6 separate regions of the Homo sapiens genome follow, and regions 2, 3, 4, 5 and 6 are each linked to region 1. Evidence: fine-mapped expression QTL. A gene starts in region 1. Each other region holds a variant in brackets. All regions are shown on one strand. Distances are between the middles of the regions. Region 1 holds the start of RESF1 (retroelement silencing factor 1). Region 2 overlaps RESF1 (retroelement silencing factor 1). Region 3 overlaps LOC105369724 (a long non-coding RNA gene). Region 4 holds the start of AMN1 (antagonist of mitotic exit network 1 homolog). Region 5 has its middle 28 kb from the start of H3-5. Region 6 overlaps ETFBKMT (electron transfer flavoprotein subunit beta lysine methyltransferase).

What was found. PIP is the estimated chance that this variant, and not a neighbour inherited with it, causes the effect.
Region 2: its variant is fine-mapped to the expression of RESF1 in whole blood (TOPMed, PIP above 0.99).
Region 3: its variant is fine-mapped to the expression of RESF1 in whole blood (INTERVAL, PIP above 0.99).
Region 4: its variant is fine-mapped to the expression of RESF1 in skeletal muscle (FUSION, PIP 0.95).
Region 5: its variant is fine-mapped to the expression of RESF1 in whole blood (TOPMed, PIP 0.95).
Region 6: its variant is fine-mapped to the expression of RESF1 in whole blood (INTERVAL, PIP 0.99).

The regions. Positions count from the first base shown.
Region 1 is chr12:31,956,516-31,961,588 of GRCh38, forward strand. It overlaps RESF1 (retroelement silencing factor 1), which reads left to right and starts at 2,900. Exons shown (of 6, transcript NM_018169.4): 1 at 2,900-2,976; 2 at 4,262-4,356. It overlaps LOC105369725 (a long non-coding RNA gene), which reads right to left and starts at 2,789. Exons shown (of 2, transcript XR_931503.2): 1 at 2,613-2,789; 2 at 1,978-2,289. RefSeq lists enhancers at 522-1,021, 1,025-1,818 and a silencer at 2,871-3,210.
Region 2 is chr12:31,991,203-31,996,275 of GRCh38, forward strand. RESF1 (retroelement silencing factor 1) reads left to right here. Exons shown (of 6, transcript NM_018169.4): 6 at 1,176-1,905. The coding sequence ends at 1,333. Among named protein-coding and RNA genes, the nearest start is that of RESF1, 34 kb to the left of the region's middle. RefSeq lists a silencer at 2,686-2,850. The variant G/A (reference allele first, on the strand shown) is at 2,163.
Region 3 is chr12:31,750,131-31,755,203 of GRCh38, forward strand. It overlaps LOC105369724 (a long non-coding RNA gene), which reads right to left. Exons shown (of 4, transcript XR_931501.3): 2 at 3,018-3,206; 3 at 1,118-1,223. It also overlaps the pseudogene IFITM3P2. Among named protein-coding and RNA genes, the nearest start is that of AMN1-AS1, 23 kb to the left of the region's middle. The variant G/T (reference allele first, on the strand shown) is at 2,666.
Region 4 is chr12:31,727,544-31,732,616 of GRCh38, forward strand. It overlaps AMN1 (antagonist of mitotic exit network 1 homolog), which reads right to left and starts at 1,478. Exons shown (of 7, transcript NM_001113402.2): 1 at 1,428-1,478. The coding sequence starts at 1,465. It overlaps AMN1-AS1 (AMN1 antisense RNA 1), which reads left to right and starts at 1,722. Exons shown (of 1, transcript NR_198987.1): 1 at 1,722-3,661. LOC105369722 (a long non-coding RNA gene) reads left to right here. Exons shown (of 3, transcript XR_931497.3): 3 at 1,114-1,347. RefSeq lists a silencer at 1,267-1,346 and enhancers at 1,397-1,746, 1,759-2,391, 1,787-1,986. The variant A/AAAAG (reference allele first, on the strand shown) is at 2,910.
Region 5 is chr12:31,761,510-31,766,582 of GRCh38, forward strand. No RefSeq gene overlaps it. Among named protein-coding and RNA genes, the nearest start is that of H3-5, 28 kb to the right of the region's middle. The variant TG/T (reference allele first, on the strand shown) is at 2,509.
Region 6 is chr12:31,666,330-31,671,400 of GRCh38, forward strand. It overlaps ETFBKMT (electron transfer flavoprotein subunit beta lysine methyltransferase), which reads left to right. Exons shown (of 4, transcript NM_001135863.2): 4 at 1,318-5,071. The coding sequence ends at 1,661. It overlaps AMN1 (antagonist of mitotic exit network 1 homolog), which reads right to left. Exons shown (of 7, transcript NM_001113402.2): 7 at 4,813-5,071. Among named protein-coding and RNA genes, the nearest start is that of ETFBKMT, 9.2 kb to the left of the region's middle. The variant C/A (reference allele first, on the strand shown) is at 2,201.

The sequences.
Region 1 (5,073 bases):
AACTAATTCTGATTGGCTAATTTAAAGAGAGTGATGGGGTGAGCGGTTTGGCAGGAAAAATGGTTAAGGCGGGGCAGGAAATCGGAATGAGTCAGGGTGGAGCAGGTGATTGAAATGAGTCAGGGTGGAGCAGGTGATGGAAAAAGGTTGCTTTACGAGGAAGTTAAGTTTAAAAGTAAAAGGCAAAGATTGACCATACTGACATATTGATTCTTTGAAGAGAAATTTAGAATTCATATCTAACACAACCGTTTTTGCAACAACACACAACCCAAGAAAGCTGGTCTCAATATTATTATTATTATTATTATTATTTTCCGAGACAGGCTCTTACTCTGTCACCCAGGCCGGAGTTCAGTGGCTCAATCTTGGCTCACTGCAACCTCTGCCTCCCAAGCTCAAGTGATCCCCCCATCTCAGCCTCCCAAGTAGCTGGGACTACAGGCGCATGCCACCACTCCTGGCTAATTTTTTTTGTTTTTTGTATATTTTTTGTAGAGATTGGGTTCACCATGTTGGCAAGGCTGCTCTCTCAAACTCCTGGCCTCAAGTGATCCTCCCCAAAGTGCTGGGATTACAAGCATAAGCCACCACGCCTGATCCCCAATCTTTTTTTGTTTGTTTTGTTTCATGAGACAGACTCTTTCTGTGGCCCACGCTGGAGTGCAGTGGCGTGATCTCGGCTCACTGCAACCTCTGCTTCCTGGGTTTAAGCAATTCTCCCGCCTCAGCCTCCCGAGTAGCTGAGAATTACAGGTGCCCACAACCACGCCTGGCTAATTTTTATATTTTTAGTAGAAACAGGGTTTCACCATGTTGGTCACGTTGGTCTCAAACTCCTGATTTCAAGTGATTCACCCACCTCAGCCTCCCAAACTGTCAGGCCTCTGAGCCCAAGCTAAGCCATCATATCCCCTGTGACCTGCACGTATACATCCAGATGGCCTGAAGCAACTGAAGATCCACAAAAGAAGCGAAAATAGCCTTAACTGATGACATTCCACCATTGTGATTTGTTTCTGCCCCATCCTAACAGATCAATGTATTTTGTAATCTCCCCCACCCTTAAGAAGGTTCTTTGTAATTCTCCCCACCCTTAAGAAGGTTCTTTGTAATCTCCCCCACCCTTAAGAAGGTTCTTTGTAATTCTCCCCACCCTTGAGAATGTACTTTGTGAGATCCACCCCCTGCCCGCAAAACATTGTTCCGCGGAGCCTCTCCCAAAACCTATAAGAATTAAAGATAATCCCACCACCCTTTGCTGACTCTCTTTTCGGACTCAGCCCGCCTGCACCCAGGTGAAATAAACAGTCTTGTTGCTCACGCAAAGCTTGTTTGGTGGTCTCTTCACACGGATGCGCGTGACACAAAGTGCTGGGGTTACAGGCCTGAGCCACCACACCTGGCCACCCCCAATCTTTAAGAATATTCTGGCCGGGCGCGGTGGCTCATGCCTGTAATCCCAGCACTTTGGGAGGCTAAGGCGGGCGGATCAAGAGGTCAGGAGATCGAGACCATCCTGGCTAACATGGTGAAACCCCGTCTCTACTAAAATACAAAAAATTAGCCGGGCATGGTGGCGGGCGCCTGTAGTCCCAGCTACTTGGGAGGCTGAGGCAGCAGAATGGCGTGAACCTGGGAGGCGGAGCTTGCAGTGAGCCGAGATCGTGCCACTGCACTCCAGCCTGGGCGACAGAGCGTGACTCCGTCCCCCCCCCAAAAAAGAAAGAATATTCTGTATGTAGTTTTTTTGTTTTGTTTCTGACAGACGCAAACGCACTCTTCTAGTAATGACTAAAGACTTCTTCGTTTAATTCACCAATGAACTAATCTGACAATTTATGTAACAAATAAATTCCTATAAACATAAGCTCCCTTGCCCCTCTCCAGTGGCACAATCTCTGATTTGCCATCCTGGTTGCAACCTTCATTACTAAGTAAACGCTTACGTAAACCTTAATAATGAGATTCGGGCAATATGATTAAATATTGGTTTATTTGAGTGCAAAGTTTGAGGATGGCGACCCGGTAGGACACAGACTCCAAAAGATGGGGGTCAGTGCTTCGAAAGGGAGAAGTTTGAGGGTCGTTTACACAGGCAGGGTCTGGGAAGCTTAACAGGATGTCAACATTTTCCATAGAAGGTTAACGCATAGCAATTTGATTGGTTCAAGGCAGTGTTTCTTTTTGGGAAGGGTCTATTTAACATTCCACATTAAGGATGTAATAGTCAAGCGGTCATTTATCTTATTCAATGCGTATTTTATCTCAGATGCCATCTGGTCTGAGCTGGGAACAAGAAAATAAGGGAGTTAATCTATAACAAAAGGTCGGCAATTAAGAGGTCGTGCTTCGTGATCTGGTCTCCAAAGTCAACTTTCCTCAGGGACTTTCAGAATCCCCAAATAGACTATCCACTTTCTTTCACACTTATTTGCCTCTAACTTGTTGATTTCTTTTTTTTTTTTCTGTTTTTTAAGGGTTAACAATCTCTTGGGTGCACTCTGACTTCCATGCGCTTTATAGAAAAAATTGGTCCTGAGGCCAGCAGCAACAGTCGGTCTCAGGAACTTGTTAGAAATGCACATTTTTCAGCCCCACCCCAAACCTACTGAATCAGCAGTTTTGCTGGTGGTTCTCAATCTCTCTTTAACGTGCCCTCTGGGTGCTGCGGATGCACGCTGAAGGTAGAAGATCGCTGCAGGAGATTTCCGCGTCGGGCAGATGAAAGCGCTCTGCAAGCCCGGGTGTTATCTGCGGGCCGGGTCCGCGGCTTCTCTGGTGGCACTAGGACCGCGGCGGCGCGGCCCTCGCAGCCACCGCCTCGGGCGTGAGGCGGAGCGTAGCTGTTCCTGGATCCTGGGCCTGGCTCCTCGACCCGCCCCTGGAGGCGGACCCCACTTGACTTAAACTCTGGGGCCCGGGAGGCCGCCGGTTTTCTCCCCGCTTGCCGGGGTGGTCCTCTTCCCTTTGTCGGTAAGTGTGAGACGAGCACCCCGAGGTCCCTCCGCCTTCCGGGGTCCGGGCGGGGCGGGGGCCGGGAGCCGGGAGCCAGAGGCACTCGCGGTCCGGGCCTGCGCGCGGCGCAGAGCGCTTTTGTTCTGCGGCAAAGACGCAGTCGCGGGCGGCCCCGGAACCCGGGCCTCGGGCCCCGCCGGCTCGCGCGTCCCGCCGTCCGCCCACCGGAGCTGGGCCGGGCCGCCGCGCTTGCTTCTGCCCGCCGCACCGGGGCCGGCCCTGGGCCTCCGCGGATGCCGAGCCTTGCACCGGAGGGCGGGCCTCGCTGGCTGTTTTCCCTCATTGCCTGGCTCTGCGCGGTAGAGGTCGCGAGTGGCGAAGGCTAGGACGCATTTTGTCGAACTGCGAGGCGCGGCTGGTGAGGCGGGTGGGTATGAGAGCTGCTTATGTTTTTAAGGCTTTCCTGTCGCTGGAGTGAAAAAGAAAAATCTTTTTTTTTTTTTGCTATTTCCCGAGGGTTCTCCTCCTCCCCGGCCCTCTTAAGCCGAAGCCTCCTGGAACAGAATTGCTGTACTGGCATCTATCTCCAAGTGGTCCGCGAACGCTTCTGCGCCGGCGATGGTTTCTGTTCCTCAGCAATAGTTCCTTGAGGCATTTTTAAATGCACAAACGCATACCCATCTTAGGTGTTCTCGAGGGACACGGATTCCCTAAGCAAACGTCCTTAGGGTCCTGAGTTCAGCAGCAAACTTTCGGGGAATCATTTCCGTGAAAACAATTTATTTGTAGTACATCGAGTGCATACTGTCTTAACATAAGGATGTGTATGAGCTTGAGGCGCATTTTCATTTAGTGGCGGGCGGGTGCATTTCAGTAGGCGGGCCGCAGAGCTTGTTTGGGGATTGCATTTTTCTGCTAAATGTGTTAGCTTTAATCATGTTTCAGTCACTGTTAATGTGCATGCATGTTAAGGTTTTAGGTTTTTTCCCCTGTGCAGTCGGATTTTTTTCTGTTTAATATTAATCCAATAAAGACAAGTGCAGAGATAAAGTATTATTGTTTTGCAGTGATACTACAATAGCGGACCTAGAGGAGCGCACATAAATTCTAACTTAAGTGAATGGTATTTTCAGGCCAGACCTAGTTTCTATTTCTGTTACTTAGGACACTTAATAAGAATTCAGTAAACTTAGCATGCTTTCAGTGCAGCCATAAAAGAAAACAGTTTTGCACAGCAGTGTCATATCTAGTAAACACATTAGCATGTGCTCTTTTATTATAAAATGTTTCTTGCTGTCCCTAGGACCAAAGAAGTAAACACTGTGTGGAGAGGGACTGACGTGTTTGGAGGGAAATGGGAATGTACACGATAATTAAAGAGTAAAGTTGTGCTCAACGGTAAGTGTATCACCTCTAAGAAACCCGCCCTGATTTAACCAGGCGGTTATTCACACTCAACTATGGAGTAATTCACCTATTACCGAATAAAATTACTAGCTCAGTGAATCAACATCGGTTTTAAATTAAACTGTGGGTCACAATGGAATTGACAGCAAAGCTTGAGAAGAAATGTTGTTGGCATAGTACTGAAAAATCAGTTGTTAATCTTAGCAAAATAAGGAAAGAGGTCTTTGGTAAGGGAATTGTGGTGGAAGTTACCTGGGCAGAGGTCTGCTTCTGTCTGTGCTGTGTTTATTTGATTGTTTTTATTATATTTTATTACTGTTGGTGGCACATAGGGGAATGTGGCGCAGAGCACCACTCTGGGAGGATGCTTCCCGTGCAGCCAAAGTGATCATGTCCAGGGCTTTCATCTGTAACCACAAAGTGTGTTAGGAAGTCTCACCTAATGATTAAGACCATGGTCCCTGTAACCACACTGCTTTGGTTCAGATCTTGGCTGTAGCACTCAGCCAACCCTGGAAAATAAACCTCTGCCTGTTCTCTCATCTATAAAATGGGGACAAGCACTAATGTCATAGGATTGTTATGGTAGAGTTACATGAGTTTCATGCATATCACAGTTAAACAGCTCCTGATGCATGGCAAGTGCCCAATAAATGTTAGCTATTGTCATGTTAGAGGAAATAGATTTTGTGGCCTGGGACATGTAAT
Region 2 (5,073 bases), 35 kb after region 1:
AAAAAAAACCCACAGGAGAAACAGATGTCTAAATTCAGTAGCAAAGGTTGCAGCAAACTTGAAGTCCTAAGTTAGGGTAAAGAGATGAAGAGGAAATGACAAGAATTTCTTGGAAAGCAACTTAGAGACCCATCTGGGGCTTCAGTGTTACTAATTCTGAAAGAAAGCAAACGAAAAAGTGGAAGACTGCAGCAGATCTAAAGAACTAACAGGACAGAATACTCCACCCATTCAGGTAGAAAAAGACAAAACAAGACCCCATTATTCAGAAGAAAATAGCTGCAGCAGGAATGAAATGTACAGATAGTCCCTGACTTGGCAGTGGTTTGACTTAGGATTTCTTGACTGTGATGGTATGAAAGTGATACACATTCAGTAGAAAGTGTATTTCGCATACCCATACAGCAATTCTGTTTGTTTGTTTGTTTGTTTGTTTTTTGAGACAGTCTCGCTCTGTCACCCAGGCTGGAGTGCAGTCGTGTGATATCGGCTCACTGCAACCTCTGCCCAGCTAATTTTTGTATTTTTAGTCAAAACAGGGTTTCGCCATGTTGGCCAGGCTGGTCTTGAACTGGCTTCATGTGATCTGCTTGCCTTGGCCTCCCAGAGTGCTGGGATTACAGGCGTGAACCACCATACCCAGCCTCAACATATTTTCAATAGGTGATGGGTCATTATGAAAAAAGGACACTGAAGCTAATGTAACACTGAAATGGTCTCAAGAAACAGGAAACTATAGACATGTTTTAGAATATCCAATACATGGCAAGACCAAAATATGAAACCTATCCTTTTCATGTATTGTTTGGGACTGACTCATATTTGTACTCTTTGTATTGCTAATTTACATAGCTGTTTAAAAGATCACATTCATACTAATGATATGCAATGATACATTTTATTGAGCCAAGAGTAAGGTAGAACAGAACAGCCCAGGGCAATGAGGATGGGGCAAGGAGGCAGGAGTAGAAAACAGCCCCCAAAAGAAAGGCAAGATGTCACGTGTATATAACTTACAATTCTATAAGTGAAGAGCTATGGTTCTGAAACTTTTGCTTAACTCCTTGCCTTAATTTTTTATCCCTCCAATATATATTTTCCCTCTGAATTTTGATTATATATTGATCACAGCTAACATTGAGAAATAAAGTAAGTAAAGTTTTTATTTCCCTTAGATAATGTTAATTCAAGACTCTCGAAGAGAAGCTTCAGTGCAGATGGATTTGAGATGCTACAAAACCCAGTAAAAGATTCAAAAGAAATGTTTCAAACCTACAAACAGATGTACCTGGAGAAGAGAAGCAGAAGCCTTGGTAGCAGTCCTGTAAAATAATTACAAGATGTGGTTTTGTAATTGCCACTGGGAAATTTCTTTCCTTTTCTGTTCAAAATATTTCGCTGAAACTAATGAGAAATGCCATGATAAAGATTTCTCAGAGTTTGGTTCCCACTTTCATTGTATTTCATTGAAAGTGCTTAATTAAAATGGCTTGAGAACTTTGGGTAGCCATGTGTAAGAAATGGATGGTATTCACCGGGGAAACAAGGTATTTGAATTTCTACTTTATTGAACCAGATTTACCATTATTTTAAAAGGAATGCTTATACAAATCAATTTGAAATTCTACCCATCTTGAGGGAGGACCGTTCCTCAGTTAAGGACTTGTTTATTTAAATGGGACTGTAAATATGTTTTGGTTTCTAAGCTATATTAGCAAAATTTATTTTTCAAAAATGCCCACTGTGATGTGAATGTCAAAATATATTCTTAAGTGTTTTATAACTAATTGTAAACTTTTTTTCAGAAGTCTTATTTTATACTTGTGAAACTGAACACAATTTTGGGACAACGTTTAAACATTACTTTTCATACTTGAAATAAACATTTATTTTTTAAAAAACTAATTTGAAACCTTCACAGCTCAGTTTCTTTTTGGTTTCCTACCTTTAAAAGGACGCATTTTGGAAAGTGCTTTCAAAAGCTGAAATGCGAGGTGGCTTATGCCTGTAATCACAGCACCTTGGGAGGCTGAGGCGGGCGGATCACAAGGTCAGGAGATGGAGACCATCCTGGCTAACACGGTGAAACGCCGTCTCTACTTAAAAAAAAATACAAAAAATTACCAGGACAAGGTGGGAGGCACCTGTAGTCCCAGCTACTC[G/A]GGAGGCTGAGGCAGGAGAATGGCGTGAACCCGGGAGGCAGAGCTTGCAGTGCGCCGAGATCGCGCCACTGCACTCCAGCCTGGGCGACAGAGCCAGACTCCTTCTCAAAAAAAAAAAAAAAAAAAAGCTGAAATGTCACAGCAGTTGTGCCAGTAGGTATTTTTAGATTGCGTTCACATGAGAACACAAAAAAATTTACTAGGTTCAGGAAATTTCAAGAAACTGGAAGGCAAGATATAACTTTATTTCTAGTTTTACTTTATGACTACGAGAAAAGGGTTGGAGTTTTTGTTTTGAGACAGGGTCTCACTCTGTCGTCAAGGCTGGAGTACTGCGGTGTAGGATGAATGTTCACTGCAATCACTGCTCCTGGGTTTAAATAATCTTCCCGTCTCTGCCTCATGAGTAGCTGGGACTACAGTGTGCTAATACACCTGGCTAATTTAAAAAAAAATTATTTAATTTGCTAATCTTTGTATTCTAGTGTGCTGCCAAAGTGAGCACATAATTTTGTTTTTTTGTTTGTTTGTTTTTGTTTCTTAATGTTTGGAGAATTTTTGTGGTTTTTTTGTTTGTTCTTTGAGACGTACTCCCGCCCTGTTACCCAGGCTGGAGTGCAATTGCGCGATCTGGGCTCACTGCAACCTCCGCCTCCCGGGTTCAAGCGATTCTCCTGCCTCAGCCTCCAGAGTAGCTGGGATTACAGGCGCCCGCCACCACGCCCAGCTAATTTTTGTATTTTTAGTATAGATGGGGTTTCACCGTGTTGGTCAGGCTGGTCTCGAACTCCTGACCTCAGGTGATCCGCCCACCCCAGCTTCCCAAAGTGCTGGGATTACAAGCATGAGCTACTGGGTCCAGCCTGTTTGTTTTTTTTTGAGACGGAGGCTTGCTCTGTCGCCAAGGCTGGAGTGCAGTGACGCCATCTTGGCTCATTGCAACCTCCGCCTCCCGGGTTCAAGGATTCTCCTGCCGAATAGCTGGAATCACAGGTGCCCGCCACCACGCCCAGCTAATTTTTGTATTTTTAGTAGAGACGGGGTTTCACCATGTTGGTCGTCAGGATGGTCTTGAACTCCTGACCTCGTGATCTGCCTGCCTCAGCCTCCCAAAGTGCTGGGATTACAGGCGTGAGCCATCTTGCCCAACCCTGAGCACATAATTTAAAAATACATACATTTTTGGAGACATGAGATTCTACCCTGTTGTCCAGACTGGTCTTGAACTCCTGGGCTCAAGTAATCCTTTGGCCTTGGCCTCCCAAAGTCCTGGGATTACAGATGTGAGCTACCACGCCCAGAGCATGTTGGTTATTTTTATAAAATCTTAATGTTGTATATATATATATAAAATTTTCATTTGAAAACTATGTACAAGGTAGACCAATGGATTTTAATGAAACATTGCAATTTTTTGTGCTTTTAGCTTTCATATTACAACCAACCTTTAGGAAACAACTACGGTCCTCTGTCATTTAATGACAGGGATATGTTCTGAGAAATACATCTCTAGGTGATTTTTTTTTTTTTTTTTAAATGGAGTCTCATTCTTTTGCCCAGGCTGGAGTGCAGTAGCACGATCTCCACTCACTGCAACTTCCGCCTCCTGGGCTCCAGCAATTTTGCTTCAGCCTCCCGAGTAGCTGGGATTACAGGCACACACCACCATGCCTTGCTAAAGTATTTTTAGTAGAGACAGAGTTTCACCATGTTGGCCAGGCTGGTCTTGAACTCCTGACCTCAAGTGATCTGCCCGCCTCAGCCTCCCAAAGTGCTGGGATTACAGACATGAGCCACCACGCCCAGCCTACTTCATTTTTTAAATAGTAAAAATCTATAAATATTGTCATGCCAAAATAAAAGATTGATTCACCTCAGGTGATCTGCCTGCCTTGGCCTCCCAAAGTGCTGGGATTACAGGTATGAGCCACTGCACCTGGCCAATTTTGGTCTTGTGTGACTATCCTAGAATGTACTAGGTTTGTGTAAACCTAGATGGTACAGGTTGAATATCCTAAATCTAAAATCCAGAGCTGGGCACAGTGGCTCATGCCCGTAAACCCCAGCACTTTGGGAGGCCAAGGCGGGCAGACCACCTGAGGTCAGGAGTTCCAAGACCAGCCTGACCAACATGGTGAAACCCCATCTCTACTAAAAATACACAATTAGCATGGTGTGGTGGCAGATCCCTGTAATCCCAGCTACTTAGGAGGTTGACGCAAGAGAATTGGTTGAACCCCGGAGGCGGAGGTTGCAGCGAGTCGAGATCACGCCATTGCACTCCAGCCTGGGCAACACAAGCAAAACTCTGTCTCAAAAAAAGAATAAAATCCAAAATGTTCCAAAATCTGAAACTTTGAATGCCAATGTGATACTCAAAGGAAATACTCATTTGAGCATTTTGGATTTTGCATCCTTGGATTAAGGATGCTTAGGTGGTGAGTATAATGCAAATATTCCAAGATCCAAAAATATCTGAAATATTTTCAGTCCCAAGTATCTCTAATAAGGTGTAGTCAACCTAGATGTCCTACTGCATACCTAATCACTATGGTGTATCTTATTGCTTATAGGCTACAAATGTGGACATCATGTTACTGTACTGAATGCTGTAGGGAATTATAACAATAGTTAAGTATTTGGGTCTTCAAGCATAGAAAAGCTACTGTAAAAATGCAGTATAAAAAAAAATGATGCCGGGCACAGTGGCTCACACCTGTAAACCCAGCACTTTGGTAGGCCAAGGCGGGTGGATCACCTGAGGTCAGGAGTTCGAGACCAGCCTGGCCAATATGGTGAAACCTCTGCTCTCCTAAAAATACAAAAATTAGCTGGGTGTGTTGGCGCATGCCTGTAATCCCAGCTACTTGGGAGGCTGAGGCAGGAGAATCACTTGAGCCTGGGAGGTGGA
Region 3 (5,073 bases), 210 kb before region 1:
GCACCACCGTACTCCAGCCTGGGCGACAGAGCAAGACTTCATCACAAAAAAAAAAAAAAGGACTATGTTACGTAATCATGCCTGGTAGATGAAAATGTCAAAGGGAAAGAAAGTAAGTGTAACAAACATCTATTAGCTGTGCCTCTATTTTAACAAAATTTAGGCCTCTCTAAATTACAAAGTAAGTGGAATGGTTGAGTGTGGGAGGGCATTAGGGGTGCAGATTTTAGAAGTATTTTATTAGATTTAGGGTTTGGGATTAGATTAGATGAGGGGTAATAAATGATTGCTAGGGAGAATGACTGGATCAGGGAACAGAAATTAACTTGTAGGTAGTTCTCTTTGGAATTTAAATGATCCTTGGAGAGAGTCAGTCATTATCTTGAAAAAGGGTCTGTTTAGGTGTGGTTACATTTTCGGTCTTACAGATGTTACCAAAACACCCAAGATTCAGTCTAGGTCCTGTTGCTCCCCTCACAGAAAGCCAATCATTAAGACAATGAGTATTGCCAGGGAAGAAGGCTGTAATCCAGTGCTGCAGCAGAGGAGATGGGAGATCAGTCCCAAATCCAACTCCCTGACTGTCTAAAATTTGGGATTTGTATAGCAGGGAAGAAATGTAACTATGTGTGGAAAAACGGGAATTTTAGGGAGGGGTAAGGAAGAGAAAGGGGTCAACAGGAAGCAGGCAGTCATGATTGGTGAGGCGTCTGGCTCCCTTTGTCCAGATGTGATGATCTGGTAAGTTTCAGCTCCTTGATACTGTCTGGGAGGACTGATGGTTTCTTTTCTGAGAAAGCAACTCAGATAAGACAGATGTAATTTTCTCAAGTTTTAAGACCAGGAGGATAAATTTCTATGTTTATTAAAAAGAACCATAAACATCACCTCTACAGGACAATTGGGCAGGTTTCCCAGGGAAGGGAAGAAAACTATTGTTCTCCTTGGTGGGTCTGGAGCTTAGGCAGGTAAAGGAACTTGAGCCTCTTTGGAAGAGCTGGTGAGGGGTGGGTAGATCAGAGAGACCTTGAGTCTTCTTAGTTCAGGATGTAAACATGCCATATTTTGGGGAATTGGTTTCTAAGCCTCAACATTACAGACAGGAATGAAAACCGACCTTGTCTGGAGGAGAACTTTCCAAGTTTGGTACAGAGGACTCCCACAGATTATGATGAAGCCATCAACTCACAAACTGGATTACCAAACACACAAGAAGGCAATCACTGTGAGAGTCAGCAGAAACAACTGATTTAGATTTCTCAAATATTTCTAGTATTAGAATTATAATTACATATATACGACATAAAACAGCTGTGTATGAAGTGTTTAAAGAAGTATATAATTTAAAAAGTGAGCCTTCAACTAGAAACAGGAATGAACAGAAACATTTTGGAAACAATCCAAAAAGAACCAGGAATTAAAAATATAATGGGGTGACTCACATCTGTAATCCCAGCACTTTGTGAGGCTAAGGCGTGTGGATCCTTTGAGATCAGGAGTTTGAGACCAGCCCAGTCAACATGGCAAAACCCCGTCACTACAAAAATACAAAAATTAGCCAGGCATGATGGCACATGCCTGTAATCCCACCACTTTGGGAGGCCGAAGGGTGGATCATTTGCGGTCTGGAATTCAAGACAAGCCTGGCCAACATGATGAAACCCCATCCCTACTAAAAAGACAAAAATTAGTCAGGTGTGGCAGTGTGCGCCTTATAATCCCAGCTGCTTGGGAGGCTGAGGCAGGAGGTTGCAGTGAGCCGAGATCGCACCACTGCACTCCAGCCTGGCCACAGAGCGAGACTTCGTCTCAAAACAAAAAAAAAAAAAAAAAAAAAAAAAATGAGGTCGGGGATGGGGAAGTGGTGGTAGGAACTCAGTGGAGGGATGAACTAGCAGATTAGATAACTCAAGTGAGAATTTGTGAACCAGAAAATATATCTAAATAACTGATCCAGAATGCACAGGGAGAAACAAGGAAATGGAAAATATGAAAAAAAGGTTAAAAGATATGTAAGATAGGATGAGAATGAGACAGGATAGTTCATAGTTCAAGGTCAAGTCTTGACCTTGACCCCCTTTGTGGGCAGGAACTGGAGTGGCTTGTTTCACTCAGCCTGCAGTCCGTGGATGGCTAAGTGTTAACAGCCCAGGCTGACAGCCTTCTGCACCTGCCCTTCTTGACACCCGAATTCTTATTCAGAGTCCAGGAAGAATCAGGTCACATAAACTTTTTGAAGGGTAGTGTATATGGAAGATTTTACTGTGTGATAAAAGTGGCTCTCAGCAGGATGGGGAATTGGAAAGGGGATGGTATGGGAAGAAACTGCTCTTTCTCTGAAGCCGTGTCTATCTGTAGTTTCCGATGCTCAGCTGCATGTATTCCTGATGCTCAGCAGCTTGTATCCCCGACCACTTGCATCAGCTGCTGAGGTTGCTCTTTTTCTTCCTTTTGTTCTGCTAGCTGGTCTGGTATTTATAGGCATATGACAGGGGGTGGAGCGGGCCAAAAAAGCAATCATTTGGGTGGAAAAAATGGGGTCAGCTGTTTCACTTAGGACTGAGGTTCCAGGCTTGAGGGTGAAGTTTAGCCTGGAGCCCAGCAGTTCTGCATCAAGAAGATTTAACATACACTTAGTTTCAATTAGAAAGATAGTGAGAAAAGA[G/T]TAGAGGCAATGTGTAAAGAGATAATGGCTGTGAATTTCCCAGAACTGGTGAGAAGCATATACCCACAGATCTTGAAAGCAAAGAAAAAAAAAATAAGGAAACAGGGAAACAAATTTAAAATATAATTTTTAAAAAATTGCAGAGAAAAAGGAAACGAGTCTAAAAATGTAAAATGGCATATTACTAAAAAAGATTCCAAGTAGTCAAGAGCAATCTATGTCCTGATAAAATTATTAGATTTCAAAAAGAATTATTTAAAAGCCAGAGAATAAATCACTTATAATGAGAAAAACAGGCTGATTTCAGATTTCTCCACAGCATTTGTTCTTAGAAGACATTATGTATACATACCAATAAAATCCTCCAGCAAAGAGATGTGACCCAGGAATTTTGTATGCAGTCAAACTGTTGCTTAAATATAAAGGTAGGTGGTGTGGTGCCTCACGTCTCTAATTCTAGCACTTTGGGAGGCTGAGGCAGGAGGATTCCTTGATCCCAGGAGTTCAAGACCAGCCTGGGCAACATGGTGACACCTTGTCCCTAATAAAAATAAAATTAAAAAAAAATTTAGCCAGGCATGATGATGCATGCCTACAGTTCCAGCTACCTGGGAGGCTGAGGTGGGAGGATCGCTTGAGTGCAGGAGATTGAGGCTGTGGTGAGCCATGGTTGCACCACCACACTCCAGCCTAGGTGACACAGTGAGACCCTGTCTCAAAACAAGACAAAACAAACACACACACATATATATATTTGTTTATATACATACATATGTATGTATGTATATAAAGCCAAAGAGTTTTGAAAACACAACATCTTAAGGGTATTGTTTGTATTAACTCACATGAAGAATCCACCAATGGACAAATGTTGTCAAACCAGAGATGACTAGAAAGCACTGGGTAGATAGCATAAGCGCTGCTGGTAAATTGGCTTAAAACTAAAATAAATGTGGGATTGTTGTTATTAAACAGAACAAATATACACATTAAGAAACATAATATAATTAACAAAAATTGAGAAGTTGTAGAGAGAAAAAGGAGGTGGAAGGAAGAAGAAAGCTACTAATTTAATTATTAGCAATTATCAGAATAGGGCATTGATAATAGTGGTTAAAGAAAGAAGATCAGGGCCGGGCACAGTGGCTCATGACTGTAATCCCAGAACTTTGGGAGGCCGAGGCAGGTAGATCACAAGGTCAGGAGATGGAGACCATCACGGCCAACATGGTAAACCCCGTCTCTACCAAATACAAAAATTAGCTGGGCCTGGTGGTGTGGCACACACCTGTAATCCCAGCTACTCAGGAGCGTGAGGCAGGAGAATCGCTTGAACCTGGGAGGAGGAGGTTGCAGTGAGCCAAGATCGCGACACTGCCCTCCAGCCTGGGTGACAGAGCGAGACTCCATCTCAAAGAAAAAAAAAAAAGAAAGAAGATCAGACATTTGACAAAATACAAACATGCATAATTATCAGAAGAAATGGACATACAACAAAAACATCTCACATACGAAAACATCTCACATACGAAAATATTTTTAACTTTGAAACCATGAATTATAACATGAAATAACATGATATAGTCATGACCAAACATGTCTTTCATATCAAAAATTTTAAACAATTGTAATAATTGTAAATGAGTTTAATTCATCTAGTAAAAGGGGAAAAAGTCAGATAGAACCACAAATAAAAAATAATTCAATACCATAAAAACAAAGACAAACCTAAAACTAATAGATTCAGAAGGACAGAAAATGAAGAGAAAAAAAGATAAATGGGCAAACCTGTACTAGGCTAATGCAAACGAAAGTAATTGTTATCTTAATTTCAAATATGGAGAAAACAAAACTACTGGGGAAAGGGAGGGTCCACTGAGAACCATCCCAGTAACTCAACCACGGCTGGTCTTCGCTGGACACCATGAACCACACTGTCCAAACCTTCTTCTCTCCTGTCAACAGCGGCCAGCCCCCCAACTATGAGATGCTCAAGGAGGAGCACAAGGTGGCTGTGCTGGGGGTGCCCCACAACCCTGCTCCCCCAACGTCCACCGTGATCCACATCCGCAGCAAGACCTCCGTGCCCCACCATGTCGTCTGGTCCCTGTTCAACACCCTCTTCATGAACCCCTGCTGCCTGGGCTTCATAGCATTTGCCTACTCCGTGAAGTCTAGGGACAGGAAGATGGTTGGCAACGTGACTGGGGCCCAGGCCTATGCCTCCACCACCAAGTGCCTGAACATCTGGGCCCTGATTTTGGGCATCCTCATGACCATTCTGCTCATCATCATCCCAGTATTAATCTTCCAAGCCCATAGATAGATCAGGAGACATCACTGAGGCCAGGAGATCTACCCATGACCTGTATCCTTTGTACTCCACCTTCCATTCCTCGCCCTGCTCC
Region 4 (5,073 bases), 230 kb before region 1:
CCTGTCAAACCTTTACTCTTTTTATTTCACTCTCTACGATACATTTCCTCCCATTTGCAACCGTCAGATACTACCAATGTTCAAAAATAACCCCCTTGACAAAGCTTTCTCCTATTCTTTTCCTTATTAGAAATTTCAAAAGTTTGTTACTCTCCCGCTTGTGATATTATTCTACATATATTATAGTTATTTATTTTATTTTTTTGAGACAGTCTCGCTCTGTCGCCTAGCAGCCTAGGCGTGCAGTGGCGCGATCTCAGCTCACTGCAACCTCTGCCTCCTGGGTTGAGGCGATTCTCCTGCCTCAGCCTCCAGAGTAGCTGGGACTACCGGCGCCACTACTACTCCTGGCTAATTTTTGTATTTTTAGTACATGCCGCGGTTTTGCCGTGCTGGCTAGGCTGGTCTCCAACTCTCCTGATCTCAAGTGCCTCGGCCTCCCAAAGTGCTGGGATTACAGGCGTGAACCACCGTGCCCAGATAATTTTTGTATCTTTAGTAGAGGCGGGGTTTCGCCACGTTGCCCAGGCTGGTCTCGAACTCCTGAGCTCAAGCAGTTCTCCCACCTCGGCCTCCCAAGTTTAATGTAAAATATCAGATGCCATTGTTTCAGAAAGCCTTCAGTAGATTAAGGAGATTGTTCTCCTTATCCTTAAGATGTCTATTTTTTACATGGCAATATTAACGGACTGAAAGCTCCTGGAGAGACGCAATTGCCCTTGTAACTTCCATTTCCGTACAATTTCTGGTAGGAAATAATAATAACAATAACACTTAGTGGTGTTTATTATTTGCTGGGCATCCTTATAAGGGTTTTACATGTTTTAAATTTATCCCTCAGGACAACTCCATGTGATGGGTGCTATTATCACAAAAATTTTATAGATAAAGAACCTAGGCACAGGGAGAGGTTACGTTACCGGTCCATGGTCACGTGGCTGGTGAATGGCAGAGCCGGGGGCTGAACCCAGCAATCTCAGCCAGGGATCCGTGGTCTTAACCACTTTGTTACCTTTATCCCAGGGTCTGTCAATGTTTATTCCAGTTACAGGGGTGGAATTCTGCTAGAAGCTTTTGAGAACCTCATCTAGCGTTGTGTTTTTTTCTACCAAGGCTTTTAGCTGCTAAGAGAGAGGCCACTGCCAGTAACAGCCGGGGCGCCGAGCTGTCAAGGCTGACGGAGGAATGGACGCTCATCGCGCAGCGGAGTGTTGGAGGGGCAAGCCCGCCAAGAGACCCACTTTGCACAACTGTCCTCAGCCAGGAAACGACAGATCAGGAACCCAGGGACAGAAACACACGCGGGGCCTCTTCAGAGGTCGGCGGGGGGGGTGGGAAAGGGGCGGGGAGGAAGAGCAGCGCAGGGCCTGGCCGTTTGGAGGAGGTGCTGGGGCGGCGCGAAGGGAGGCGGGACAGGGTAGACTCACAGATCCAGGAGCTGACTGACCCGCCGTGGGCGAGGCATCGCTGCAGCGTCTGAAGCCTCTTCCGCGGTCCCAGGGCCTCCAGAACCCAGCCAGGGACCGTCCGCCAACTCCCGCCCACCGCGCGACGCGTAGGTTTTTGTGACGTCACACGGATTTTTCCGGTGACCGGGGCGTGGCCACGCTTCGGACTCCACAAGGAAAGAAGAGAGCCCCCTTTGGGGCGGAGCCACTGAGGGCTGCGCGGAAGAGGCTGGGTGTGATAAACTATAAAGAGGCCCTAAACTCGGATGCAACGTGACGGGAGTTGTAGTTCTTTCACCTGGCGGGCGTCTGCTCCGGTTCAGCTGCAGGAGGTTTCTTGGGAGTTCAGCCCAGCGCGCAGCCCCGCCGCGACGCCGCGAGCCGAGAACTCTCCTGGGGCGAAGGGAGCGCTGAGAAGTCGCTACTCTTACTAAAAGGATGCGTTGGATGCTGGGCCATACCCTTGGCGATGCACACTGGAGACCCGCTCGGATACGGACTCCATTAACATCAAACGGAGCGTGTTAGAGGATCCGAGTTTACTGAGCACTTTCTAGGAAGCGTGCACTGAGCTACGTGCTTTCTAGGCCTTAGTTCAATACTTAACCATATTCATTATAATCCGGTGAAATCGTAATTATTTAGCCTTATTTTACAGATGAGGACACTGCGTACCAACAAGTAACCTCACTAAGAATTTCGTCATGGAGGAGAAGGGAACCTGTATTCAAATTAGGAAGGATCCTGAAGAAAGGGCACCTTTAGGTGGAATTTTATCTTTGGTTCTGCTGCAGAGTACTTGCTGCTTTTTAGTGCTCCCTCCACCCCCCTCATTCTTCCTTGTAGATTAGTCTGTTGTTTGTATGCTGAGTTCCTTTTTTAAGCTCCTTGAAAGTTGGAACCCACTGCTGTTGCCTGTTCAGGATGCTACACATTGAATCAACATGGATTTATTAAGCGCTGAACGAGGGCTAGGGATCGTGCTGGGTGCTGAGGATTGAGTGGCGAACACTTGGGTCAGACAAGTAAAAGGGCAATTAGAATAACTGTTAAATGCTTAGATGGGGTTAGTTCTATGGAAGCACCCATGGGGGTGGGATACAGATCAGAGAGAAAAGGGTGGTCTGCAAATAGTTTGGGATGGCTACACTGGAGAGTGATCAAGAGTGAGTGTAGGGCAGGGGTTGGCCGACTTTTTCCATAAAGTGCTCTGAAAGTTGCAGATTCCAGGAGAAGTAACTATTGTCAGACCCAGACAAATTGGAGCCTAGAGACCAGAAAGGAAGGAAACTCATGCTTGTATGTCTGAGATAAGAACTGTCTCAAGGCCAGACGCGGTGGCTCACACCTGTAATCCTAGTACTTTGGGAGGCCGAGGCGGGCGGATCACGAGGTCAGGAGTTTGAGACCAGCCTGGCCAACGTGGTGAAATTCCCGTCTCTACTAAAAATACAAAAAAAA[A/AAAAG]AAAAAAAAACTGGGTGTGGTGGCGGGCGCCTGTAATCCCAGCTACTGAGGAGGCTGAGGCAGGAGAATCGCTTGAACTCGGAGGAGGTTATAGTGAGCCGAGATCGTGCCACTGCACTCCAGCCTGGGCGACAGAGCAAGACTCCGTCTCAAAAAAAAAAAAAAAGAAAGAACGAACTGCCTCAAGGACTTTAAAAAATAAACCAAAAAACCCACAATTTCTTCACATCTTTCATGCATTTAATGTTTTGCACAACTTGCTTGTTTTGCAAATATGCGCACATTTCTATGACAAGATTTATTGCTAAATATTCTTTAAAACTGCAGCAGTTCAGATAAGATACTGTCGAAAGGACGTTTGGCCCAGCAGCAGGACCTCCACCAATGAACGGACTCCAATTCTTGATTTGAGCCTTGGGAACCAATCAACTTAGTTTCCAAGAGTTTATGTGAACTTCCCTCCTTTACCAGTAAAATCTTCCCCCTATTCTTCCCTTCTCCAGACCCGTGGCTTGCCATAGCTGTACATCTTGGATTATAATTCTTTTTGTTCACTCCCAAAGAAACTCAGTATCTTTGGAGAATTCTTTCTTTGTTGTCTTTTAGCTTCCCAGAGCCAAACAAGAAATATTTTAGGTTTTGTGGGTCATGCTGGCTTGGTCACAGCTATTCAACTTGTATCTTAAAATTAGCCATAGACAGTATGAATGGGTGGGTCTCTGTTCCAATAAAACCTTATCCTAAACACTGAAGTTTGAATTTTATGTAATTTTCAACTGTCATGAAATACTCATCTTTTGATCTTTTTCAGCCACTGAAAAATGTAAAAGCCATCCTTAAGTTGCAAGCTATACAAAAACAGACAGTGGACTGGATTTGACCCTTGAGCCATTTGTCCATGTGCCCTCACCTGATCTAGAAAGCTAAAATGCACATGCCTCACGCCTGTAATCCCAGCACTTTGGGAGGCCAAGGTGGGCGGATCAGCTGAGGTTAGGAGTTCGAGACCAGCCTGGGCAATATGGAGAAACTCTACTAAAAGTACAAAAAAATTAGCTGGGCGTGGTGGCAGGTGCCTGTAATCCCAGCTACTCAGGAGGCTGAGGCAGGAGAATTGCTTGAACCCAGGAGGCGGAGGTTGCACTGAGCCGAGATCACACCACTGTACTCCAGCCTGGGCAACAAGAGTGAGACTCTACCTCAAAAAAAACAAAGAAATTACGAATTTTAAGATGGTGATAGCAGAGCACTAAACCCAGAGTGGGGCCCGTGTGACTGCACATTTTGCCCACCCATGAAGCCAGCCCTGGGTGCGTCCAACTTCAGGATTCCCCCCCCCAAAAATCAGTTCAGGAACCCTATGTCAAAATAAAAATCAAAGACAAATATGAGCACAGAGAGACATTTTTACTTGCAGTTCAAGAAAATCAGACTTTCAGAGAGTGGCTCGCTAAATAGAATAGAGGAATTTATAGCTCAGATGAAATGGCAGATATTTATAGCTCAGATATGGCAGTTCATTCCAATTGGATAAGAACAAGATGTTCCTGTTTTGTGGTAAGGAAAACAGGATGTTCTTGTTTTTGTGGCTTATCTCTGGAGGCAAAGCTTTTAGGATTTCCCGTTAGTCAAGGCTTTTAGGAGGTTCCCGCTATTCATGGTTTATCTTTGAATGCAAAGTTATTGGGAATGAAAGTCTTTTCTAGTGTATGGTAAGTGATTTGTAGGCAGGGTTAGGCTAAGGGCAAGATATTTTCCTTTTCTCCTCTCTGTTTGCTGTGCCCACTTTAATATAGTTTCCTCTAGCTCAGAATCTCCTCCACTTCCTACCATAGCTACCATACAAAGTAAACGTTATCATAGATTGTTGCTGTGGGTTTGTTTTACTTTACTCCAGGCTGGAGTGCAGTGGCGCAATCTCGGCTCACTGCAACCTCTGCCTCTCGGATTCAAGCAATTCTCCCGCCTCAGCCTCCCAAGTAGCTGGGATTACAGGCATGTGCCACCATGCCAGGCTAATTTTTTTTTTTTTGTATTTTTAGTAGAGACGAGGTTTCACCATATTGGCTAGGCTGGTGTCGAACTCCTGACCTTGTGATCCACCTACCTCGACCTCCCAAAGTGCTGGGATTACAGGCGTGAGCCACCGTACCCGGCCTCTGGG
Region 5 (5,073 bases), 200 kb before region 1:
TACTAGGTACTAGGAAAAAGAATCCTGTAATACCTTACAAGAATGAAAGGACAAAAATGGGGATTATTTCAGAAATACAAGGATAATAAATTATTAGGAAATCTATTTTATAAAGAGACCCAAGGACAATCAACTCAACAGACTTTGAAAAATAATTTGATTAAAAGCTTTTGGGAGGCCAAGGTGGGCAGATCATGAGATCAGGAGATTGAGACCATCCTGGCTAACACAGTGAAACCCTGTCTCTACTGAAAATACAAAAAATTAGCCAGGCGTGGTGGCAGGCACCTGTAGTCCCAGCTACTCTGGAGGCTGAGGCAGGAGAATGACGTGAACCTGGAAGGTGGAGGTTGCAGTGAGCTGAGATCACACCACTGCACTCCAGCCTGAGCGACAGAGTGAGATTCCATCTCAAAAAAAAAAAACAAAAAAAAAACCTTTTAACATTTATTTATTTATTTATTTATTTATTTATTTAGACAGAGTCTCGCTTTTTCACCCAGGCTAGAGTGCAGTGGTGCGATCTCAGCTCAGCTCACTGCAACCTCAGCCTCTTGGGTTCAAGTGATTCTCCTGCCTCAGTGTCCCAAGTAGCTGGGATTATAGGCATGCATCACCATGCCTTGCTAATTTTTGTATTTTTAATGGAGATGGGGTTTCACCATGTTGGCCAGGCTGGTCTCGAACTCCTGACCTCAAGTGATCCATCTGCCTCGGCCTCCCAAAATGCTGGGATTATAGATGTGAACCACAGTGCCTGGCCCATCTACTTTTCAATCAAAAATGATCATAAAAGAATAAGAATATAAGTTGACAGCAAGAATGAGGAAATAAAAAATTTTTTTAATTAAATTTGAAAAATAAAAAAAAAGAATAGAAGACATTTCCTTAATATGAATCTATTTTAACCTCAAGACAGCTTATGTTCAAAGGAAAATATTAGAAGTACTCCCATTAACAAAAGATTTTAAATAATGATGACTACTATTATCAGTAATATTTTTCTATCTAATGTGTTTATCTTTATATTTGGGGGAAAATTAGAAGTTAAAAGTTATTGGAAACAAGACAACAATGCCTGCTGTCATCACTTGCATTCAAAATTGAACTGGAAGTTCTAGCCAAGGCAATTAGGCAAGAAAATAAAATAAAAGGCATCTAGGTTGGAAAAGAGGAGGGACAACTATCTTTTTTTGCAGATGAGATAAAAATCCCTAAACAATTCACAAAAAATCCATTAGGGCTAATAAACAAGCTCAGAATGGTGCAACAATGCAAGATCAATATACAAAAATCAGTTGTATTTCTATAAAGTAACAATGAACAATCCAAAAATAAAATTAAGAAAATAATTCCATTTATAATACCATCAAATATAATAAAATACTTTGCAACAAATTTAACAAAAGAAGTGGATGACTCAGCCAGGCAAGGTGGCTCACACCTGTAATCCCAGCACTTTGGGAGGCCGAGGCAGGCAGATCATGAGGTCAGGAGTTCGAGACCAGCCTGGCCAACATAGTGAAACCTCATCTCTACTAAAAATACAAAAAAATTAGCTGGGTGTGGTGGCGGGCACCTGTAATCCCAGCTACTCGGGAGGCTGAGGCAGGAGAATTGCTTGAACCCGGGAGGTGGAGGTTGCAGTGAGCTGAGATCGTGCCATTGCCCTCCAGCCCAGGCAACAGTGTGAGACTCCGTCTCAAAAAAAAAAAAAAAAAGAAACAAACAAACAAAAGAAATGGATGACTCATACTGAAAAAGAGATCATTGAAAGAGATGACTCAGGAGGCTGAGGCAGGAGGATCAGGAGTTTGAGTTTGTAGTTAGCTATGATCGCGCCACTGTACTCCAGCCTGGGTGACAGAGCAAGATCCTACTGAAAACCAAAAAGAGAAGCAAGAAAAAGAGAAAAAGAAAGAAGACTAGTTGAAACAACATCTGTTTTCATGGATTGGAATATCTAATATTGTTAAGATATCAGTACTTCTTAAATTAATCTGCAGACTCAACACAATCCCTGTCAAAATTCCAACAGCATTTTTAATTTTTTCAGAAATGTAAAAGCTGATCCTCAAATACATATAGAACTGCAAGGGGCCCTGAATAACCAAAACAATCTTGAAAAAGTTAAAAATTGAAAGACTCACACCTCCCCATTTCAAAACTTTGCTTAAAGCTATAATATCAAGACTGTAGTATGGGCATAAGAATAGACATGTAGTTGAGGACAATGAATTGAGAGTCCAGAAATAAACCCAGACTCTTGCATCAATTGATTTTCAACAAGGCTGCCAAGACAGTTCAATGGAGGAAAGAATAATCTTTCAACAAATGGTTCTGAACAACTAGATATCTACATACAAAATAATGAATTTGGCACCTGAGTACCATACACTATATACAAAAATTAACTCAAAATGGATCAGGACCTAAACATAAGAGCTAAAATTATAAACTCTTAGAAGAAAACATAGATGTAAATCCCTGTGACCTTGGATTAGGTAA[TG/T]TTTTTTTAGTTATGGCACCAAAAACACAAACTATAAAAGAAAAAAATAGAAAAATTGATCTACTCCAAAATTAAACACTTTAGTGCTACAAAGGACATTATCCAGAAACTGAAAAGACAACCTATAGAAAAGGATAAAATATTTGCAAGTCATTCTAGTAAAGAACTTGAATTGGCCGGGCATGGTGGCTCACGCCTGTAATCCCAGCACTTTGGGAGGCCGAGGCAGGTGGATCACAAGGTCAGGAGATAGAGACAAGCCTGGCTAACACCGTGAAACCCCGTCTCTATTATGAATACAAAAAATTAGCCGGGCGTGGTGGCGCATGCCTGTAGTCCCAGCTACTCGGGAGGCTGAGGCAGGAGAATGGCGTGAACCCGGGAGGCGGAGCTTGCAGTGAGCCAAGATCGTGCCACTGCACTCCAGCCTGGGGGACAGAGTAAGACTCCGTCTCAAAAAAAAAGAACTTGTATCTAGAATATATAAAAAACTCTAACAATTCAGCAATAAAAGACAACCCAACTAAAAAATTGACAAAGGATTTTTTTTTTTTTTTTGAGATGAAGTCTTGCTCTGTCCCCCAAGCTGGAGTACAGTGGCGCAATCTCCACTCACTGCAACCTCCGTCTCCTAGGTTCAAGTGATTCTCCTGCCTCAGCCTCCAGAGTAGCTGGAATTACAGGCGCCCGCCACCACGCCCAGCTAATTTATTTTTTATTTTTTATTTTTAGTAGAGACGGGGTTTCCCCACATTGGCCAGGCTGGTCTTGAACTCCTGACCTCAAGTGATCTGCCTGCCTCGGCCTCCTAAAGTGCAAGGATTACAGGCATGAGCCATCCACAGGCCAAGACAAAGGATTTGAATAGGCATTTCTTCAAAGAAGACAACAAATGACCAATAAGCATATGAAAAGATGCTCAATGCTGCTAATCATTAGGGAATTACAAATCAAAACTAGGAGATACTAAGTCATACCCACTATGATGGCTACTCTAATTTTTTTAACTTTTAATTTTTTTTTTTTGAGATGGAGTCTCACTCTGTAGCCCAGGCTGGAGTGCAGTGGTGTGATCCCATCTCAGCTCACTGCAACCTCCGCCTCCCGGGTTCAAGCAATTCTCATGCCTCAGCCTCCTGAATAGCTGGAACTACAGGCATGTGCCACGATGCCCAGCTATTTTTTAAATTTTTAGTAGAGACAGGATTTCACCATGTTGGCCGATCTGGTCTCAAACTCCCAACCTCAAGCGATCTACCCGCCTTAGCCTCCCAAAGTGCTGAGATTACAAGTGTGAGCCACTGGGCCCAGCCGTATAATAATTTTTTAAAACAATTACAGGTGTTGATGAGGTTGTGGAGAAATAGGAACCCATGGAAATTGCTGGTAGAAATATGAAATGGTAGTAAAAAAACAGTTTGGGAGTTCCTTTAAAAGGTAAACCTAGAGGCCGGGTGTGGTGGCTCACGCCTGTAATCCCAGCACTTCGGGAGGCTGAGGCAGGTGGATCATGAGGCCACACGGTGAAACCCCATCTCTACTAAAAATACAGAAACCAAATTAGCTGGGCGTGGTGGCAGGCACCTGTAGTCCCAGCTACTTGGAAGGCTGAGGCGGGAGAATGGCGAGAAACCAGGAGGTGGAGCTTGCAGTGAGCCGAGATCGCGCCACTGCATTCCAGCCTGGGCAACAGAGGGAGACTCCGTCTCAAAAACAAACAAAAAAAAAACTTAAACCTAGAATTACTAATATGATGAGCAATTTCACTCCTTGGTACGTACCTTAGGGAATTGAAAACATATGTTCATATAAGATAGCAAAAAAAGGAAACAACTGAAATGTTAATCAACTGATGAATGGATAAACAAAATGTGGTATATCCATAAAATCGAGTATTATTTAGTCATAAAAAGGAATGAAGTATGAAAGATGCTAAAACATAGATGAACCTCAAAAACATTGTACTCACTGAAAGAAGCTATATACAAAAAGCTTCCCTTTTTATAGGAAATGTCCAAAATAGGTAAATCCACAGAGACAAACTATAGACTAGTGGCTGCCAGAGCTTAGGGGGAAGGAAGGATGAGGAGTGACTAATAATGGCTACGGAGTTTCACTTTGGGATGATAAAAATGTTTTGAAACTAGTGGTGATGGTTGTACAACCTTGTGACTACACTAAAAATCACTGACCTACACACTTTAAAATGGTGAAATTTATTTGTGCTTGAATTATATCTCAAAAATATGGTTAAGTTTTAAGTTTATTATAACAGAATTAAACTTTTAGAAAAGGGAAAAAATGGTTTTACAGGGAAAGGATGTGGTAATTTTATAAATTATTTCTAGATGATAGGATTATATACATGGAAAAACCTGAGAGAAAAACACAAAATTTTATAGATCATAAGAGAATTCAGGTGGACTAGCATGACATTAACAGTCAAAATCAATCATTTTCATATATACAAACAATAAGCAGTTCAAAAACATCTATTTACAATAGCAACAGAAAAATAATTTCTGGGAATAATCTAACAATAAATGTGCAAAATCTAAACGAAG
Region 6 (5,071 bases), 290 kb before region 1:
CATTGTGAATCTCTGTGCACTGGGACATTATCTGTAGGAATCCCCTGAGGTCTGAGTAGATGGTGCATTTTTCCCAAGAGGATTTGTGTCTGCCAGACATCCAGAGTAAGCACTTATGTTAATTTATGGGCTAGGAATTTCCTGAAATATGTAAATAGTGTTTATTTGACCCCAAACCCAAGTGAGTATTGACCTGTCTTTGAGGGTTATTTTTATTCCATTAGAACCCAGGCTGAGACAGGTAAGTTTTTATTTGATCTGATTTTCTTCTGGTCTACCCTTTCACTGAGAATATAGTCCTTGAAAACCTTTATTTTATTTTATTTATTTATTTATTTTGAGACAGAGTCTCCCTCTGTCACCCAGGCTGGAGTGCAGTAGCACAATCTCAGCTCACTGCAAGCTCCGCCTCCCGGGTTCACACCATTCTCCTGCCTCAGCCTCCTGAGTAGCTGGGACTATAGGTGCCTGCCACCATGCCTGGCTAATTTTTTTTTTTTTGCATTTTTAGTAGAGATGGGGTTTCACCGTGTTATTCAGGATGGTCTCAATCTCCTGACCTCGTGATCTGCCCGTCTTGGCCTCCCAAAGTGCTAGGATTACAGGCATGAGCCACCGCGCCTGGCTGAAAACCTTTATTTTATAAAGGAGTCTCAGTTCTTTTTTTTTCTTTTTTTTTTTTTGATACAGAGTCTCACTCTATTGCCCAGGCTGGAGTGCAGTGGCACGGTCTTGGCTCACTGCAACCTCCACCTCGTGGGTTCAAGTGATTCTCCTGCCTCAGCCTCCCGAGTAGCTGGGATTACAGGCATGCACCACCATGCCCAGCTAATTTTTGTATTTTTATTAGAGACAGGGTTTGACCATGTTGGCCAGGCTGGTCTTGAACTCCTGACCTCAGGTGATCCACCCGCCTCGGCCTCCCAAAGTACTGGGATTATAGGCGTGAGCCACTGCGCCCAGCCAAGGGGTCTCAGTTCTAATTTATTGCCATGCTCAATCAAGCCCAAGTCTCGTTTCCCTGTCCACAGTAAAAAAACAAAATCTTTTGGTTAATGAAATCAGCAAATATTCCTAAAAGTCCCAGCATTTCTAGGTGTTTTGAATTGTTTGTTTTCAGGATATCCAGTCATGTATTTGGAAATTGTGGTATAGCTTATATTGGGATAACCTTTATACTTCTCTACTTTAAAAAACAACTTTCATCAAAAAGGAAGAAAAATATATTGTTAGCAGATCTTCTAAATTATTTAATCAACATGGAATTATAACAGCCTAGCATATACCAATTCATTTTGTGCTTTTTTTTTTTTTAAGTTGCAGGAATGGCTATTACACTAAATTGTGAATTGAACAGACTGAATCCTTTTCCTATTTTAATCCAAAACATTTTGAATTTGGAACAAGATAAGTGGGACCTTGTTGTTCTTGGCGATATGTTTTATGATGAAGACCTTGCAGATAGTCTTCATCAGTGGCTGAAGAAGTGCTTCTGGACCTATAGAACTCGAGTACTGATTGGTGACCCTGGGCGGCCCCAGTTCAGTGGACACAGCATTCAGCATCACCTGCACAAAGTGGTAGAATATTCACTTTTGGAGTCTACTAGGCAGGAAAACAGTGGACTGACAACAAGCACAGTGTGGGGTTTTCAGCCTTGAGTTGTCAAAGTGCTTCCAAGTATGAATATAGTAATGTTTGGATCTGACTCTAAAAGTTTTCTCTATAGGAGATACTCTCCAGTTTAATGAATGTAATTCTTGTTAAATGGAAAATCTTGTTTTTAAAATATGAAGGTTTAGAGTTTTGTTTACTTTTGTCATGTAACTGGTTCTGTATTTCTATGCATGCCAATTATACACATCTCTATCTGCATTTTTTTTTCTATTTTAACCGCTGAAGGAATATGATTATACAATGCCATACTCAATGGTGGCAGCATTTAATTTAAGTAATGGAGAAGAATTAAACATTGTAGCTGGATCTGTTTCTGTAGTCGAGGACAACTGTGATGTAACTTTGAATTAAACAAACAAAACAAAACAGAAGAAGACTATATATATATTTTTTCTTTTTTTAGAGACAGTCTCACTTTGCTCCCAGGCTGGAATGCAGTGGCTATTCAGAGGCTTAATCATTGGGCACTGCAGCCTTGAACTCTGGGCTTTTTTTTTTTTTTGAGATGGAGTCTCAGCTCTGT[C/A]GTCCAGGCTGGAGTGCAGTGACTCATGTCTCGGCTCACTGTAGCCTCCACCTCCCCCAATCAAGCGATTGTCCTGTCTCAGCCTCCAGAGTAGCTGGGATTTTAGGTGTGCACCACCATGCCTGGCTAATTTTTGTATTTTTAGTAGAGACGGGGTTTTGCCATGTTGGCCAGGCCGGTCTCAAACTCCTGACCTCAGGTGATCCACCCGCCTTGGCCTCCCAAAGTGCTAGGATTACAGGTGTGAGCCACCACGCCAGCCTGACGATGTTTTTTACTTCTATCACTTCCTTTTGATTTTTTCTTATAGCTTCTATCTCTGCTTACGTCACCCATCATTCTTGCGTGTTGTATGCTTTTCGCATTAGAGCCCTTTGCATGTTAATCAGTTATTTTAAATTTATGATCTGGTAATTCTAAAATGTCTGCCATAACTGAGTCTGGTTCTGATGCTTGTTTTCTTTTCAGACTGTTTTTTTGTCTTTTAGCATGCCTTGTAATTTTTTGTTGATAGCTAGACATGATGTATTGCATAAATAAACAAGTAAACTAAGGTAGCATGAGGTTTTAAAATCTGGGTAGGGCTACTGTTTGCTGTAGAGTAGATATTACAGGCTAAATTTTCCTCTAGTGTCCTGGCTATTGTCTCCTCTGTTATCTTTGAGTTTCCCTAGAGATTCCTTCTTATATAGAGTCTGAAGCTTGCAGTTTTTTTCACCTGTAATTCCCTGTTATTATACAGTAGCCTAACTGATGTGATAAGGTATGGGAGAAGGTATGTTCTATAGTCCTGTGATTAAGTCTCAGTCAGTTAAGTCAGCCTGTGCCCCTGCTGTGACCTTCACAAGTGCTTTCAGCTTTTCTTTTGTCACTTTGGTGAGACAGGAAGGCTAGAGGCAGCTGGAGTTGGGTGCTTCCTTTCCCCCAGGTCAACGAGGCTCTGGTAAAATAGTTTCCCTTGAGAACTGGCTTTTGTTAAGGAGAACTGAACACTTGGGCATATTTCAAAATGGTTACTTTCCCTATCCTCATACCAGAAGAGGGGATTTTTCTCTGATCCTCACCCTGAGAACCTGGTAGGTATCCTGGAGGTAAAACTATGAAAGTGTGGTGTCTCCCCTAGGAGTGGGCCCCCTGGAGTTTGTTTGTTTTAATTTAACAAAGTTTAATTGAGCAAAGAACAATCTGTGAATTGGGCAGCTCCCAAAAGCAGAATAGGTTCAGAGTGACTGCAGGGTTGCCACACCTGGTTAGATAACGTTTATGGACAGATTCCTAGAGCTTTTGATTCTTTTTTTTTTTTTTTTGAGGCAGAGTTTCACTCTTATTGCCCAGGCTGGAGTGCAATGGCGTGATCTTGGCTCACTGCAACCTCCACCTCCTGGGTTAAAGTGATTCTCCTGCCTCAGCCTCCTGAGTAGCTGGGATTACAGGTATACACCACCAAACCCAGCTGGGATTACAGGCATGCACCACCATGCCCAGCTAATTTTTGTATTTTTAGTAAAGACAGGGCTTCGCCATGTTGGCCAGGCTGGTCTCGAACTCCTGACCTCAGGTGATCCACCTGCCTCAGCCTCCCCAAGTGCTGGGATTACACGTGTGAGCCACTGTGCCAGGCTGGAGCTTTTGATTCTTAAGTCCATCCACATGGAGCCTCCAGCAACTCAGGAATTACAGCATAAATGTTCCTATTGGTACTGGCTCCAGCAACAGGCTTCTGCTCCCTGTAAGCTATGGTTCTTTGTATTTGCGTTTCTAATTTGTGAGGCATTCTCTCTTTAACCTTAATTCTCTAATGGATCTAAGTGTTGTTGACTTTTCAGTTTATTGAGCTTTTTTCTTATTGTGAGGATGGGAATGATGACTTCCAATCTCTTTATATTAGAAAATATAAATCAGACTAGAGACTGGAAATTTTTGTTGTTGTTGTTGGGTGTTTTGTTTTGTTTGTTTTTAGACAGGTCTTGCTCTCTCATCCAGGCTGGAGTTCAGCAATGCGACCGTGCTCACTGCAGCCTCGACTTTCTAGGCTCAGGTAATCCTCCCACTTCAGCCTCCTTAGTAGCTAGGACTGTAGGCATGCACCACCATGATGCCTGGCTAGTTTTTTTATTTTGTATTTTTTGTAGACATGGAGTCTTGCTACATTGGCCAGGCTGGGTATTACTGGGTATTTCTTTCTTTCCTCCTTTATTTCTTTCCATATTTACTTATTCAATGAATATTTGAGTGCTTATTATATACCAGGCACTGTTCTAGGCACTGGGGATATGGGGATACAGCAATGAAAAAAAAAGATAAATACTTTGTCCTTATGAAATTTGTATTCTAGAGTAGGGAGACATAATGAACAAATGAAAACAGGCATCAGATGGTGATAGGTAGTAAGGAGAAAAAGAAGTAAGGGTAATAGGGAATACTGGGTACTGGATGGGGTACAGATATTTTAAACAGAGTGGTGAGAAATAGTTAATACAGCTAGCAACATAAAAAAGGAGAAATATCAAACTGCAAACTGTTTTAGGAAGATAAATCCTTCATAGACCCAAAGAAGCTCACAATTTAGATGTCGAAACTAGTTTCTGCAAAAAGGGGAAAATGTGATTGACTTGGTTAAATATTCAGTATTAAATTTTATTGAATTTGTCTTTAGAAAAATTTCATAGTTAGAACAGGCCTTACCCATTTTGCACATATATACATATGCACCACCTTTGCAGTGGCAACATATATATCCACACTATAAACATACCACATTTATAAATCTTGTAAGGACAAGAAATGGAGTTGAATAAGTACCCCCCAACATATACAAGAAAGTTAGCATACTTACCCCGTTTTTCACTACATCAGAGGCAAAATAAGAAA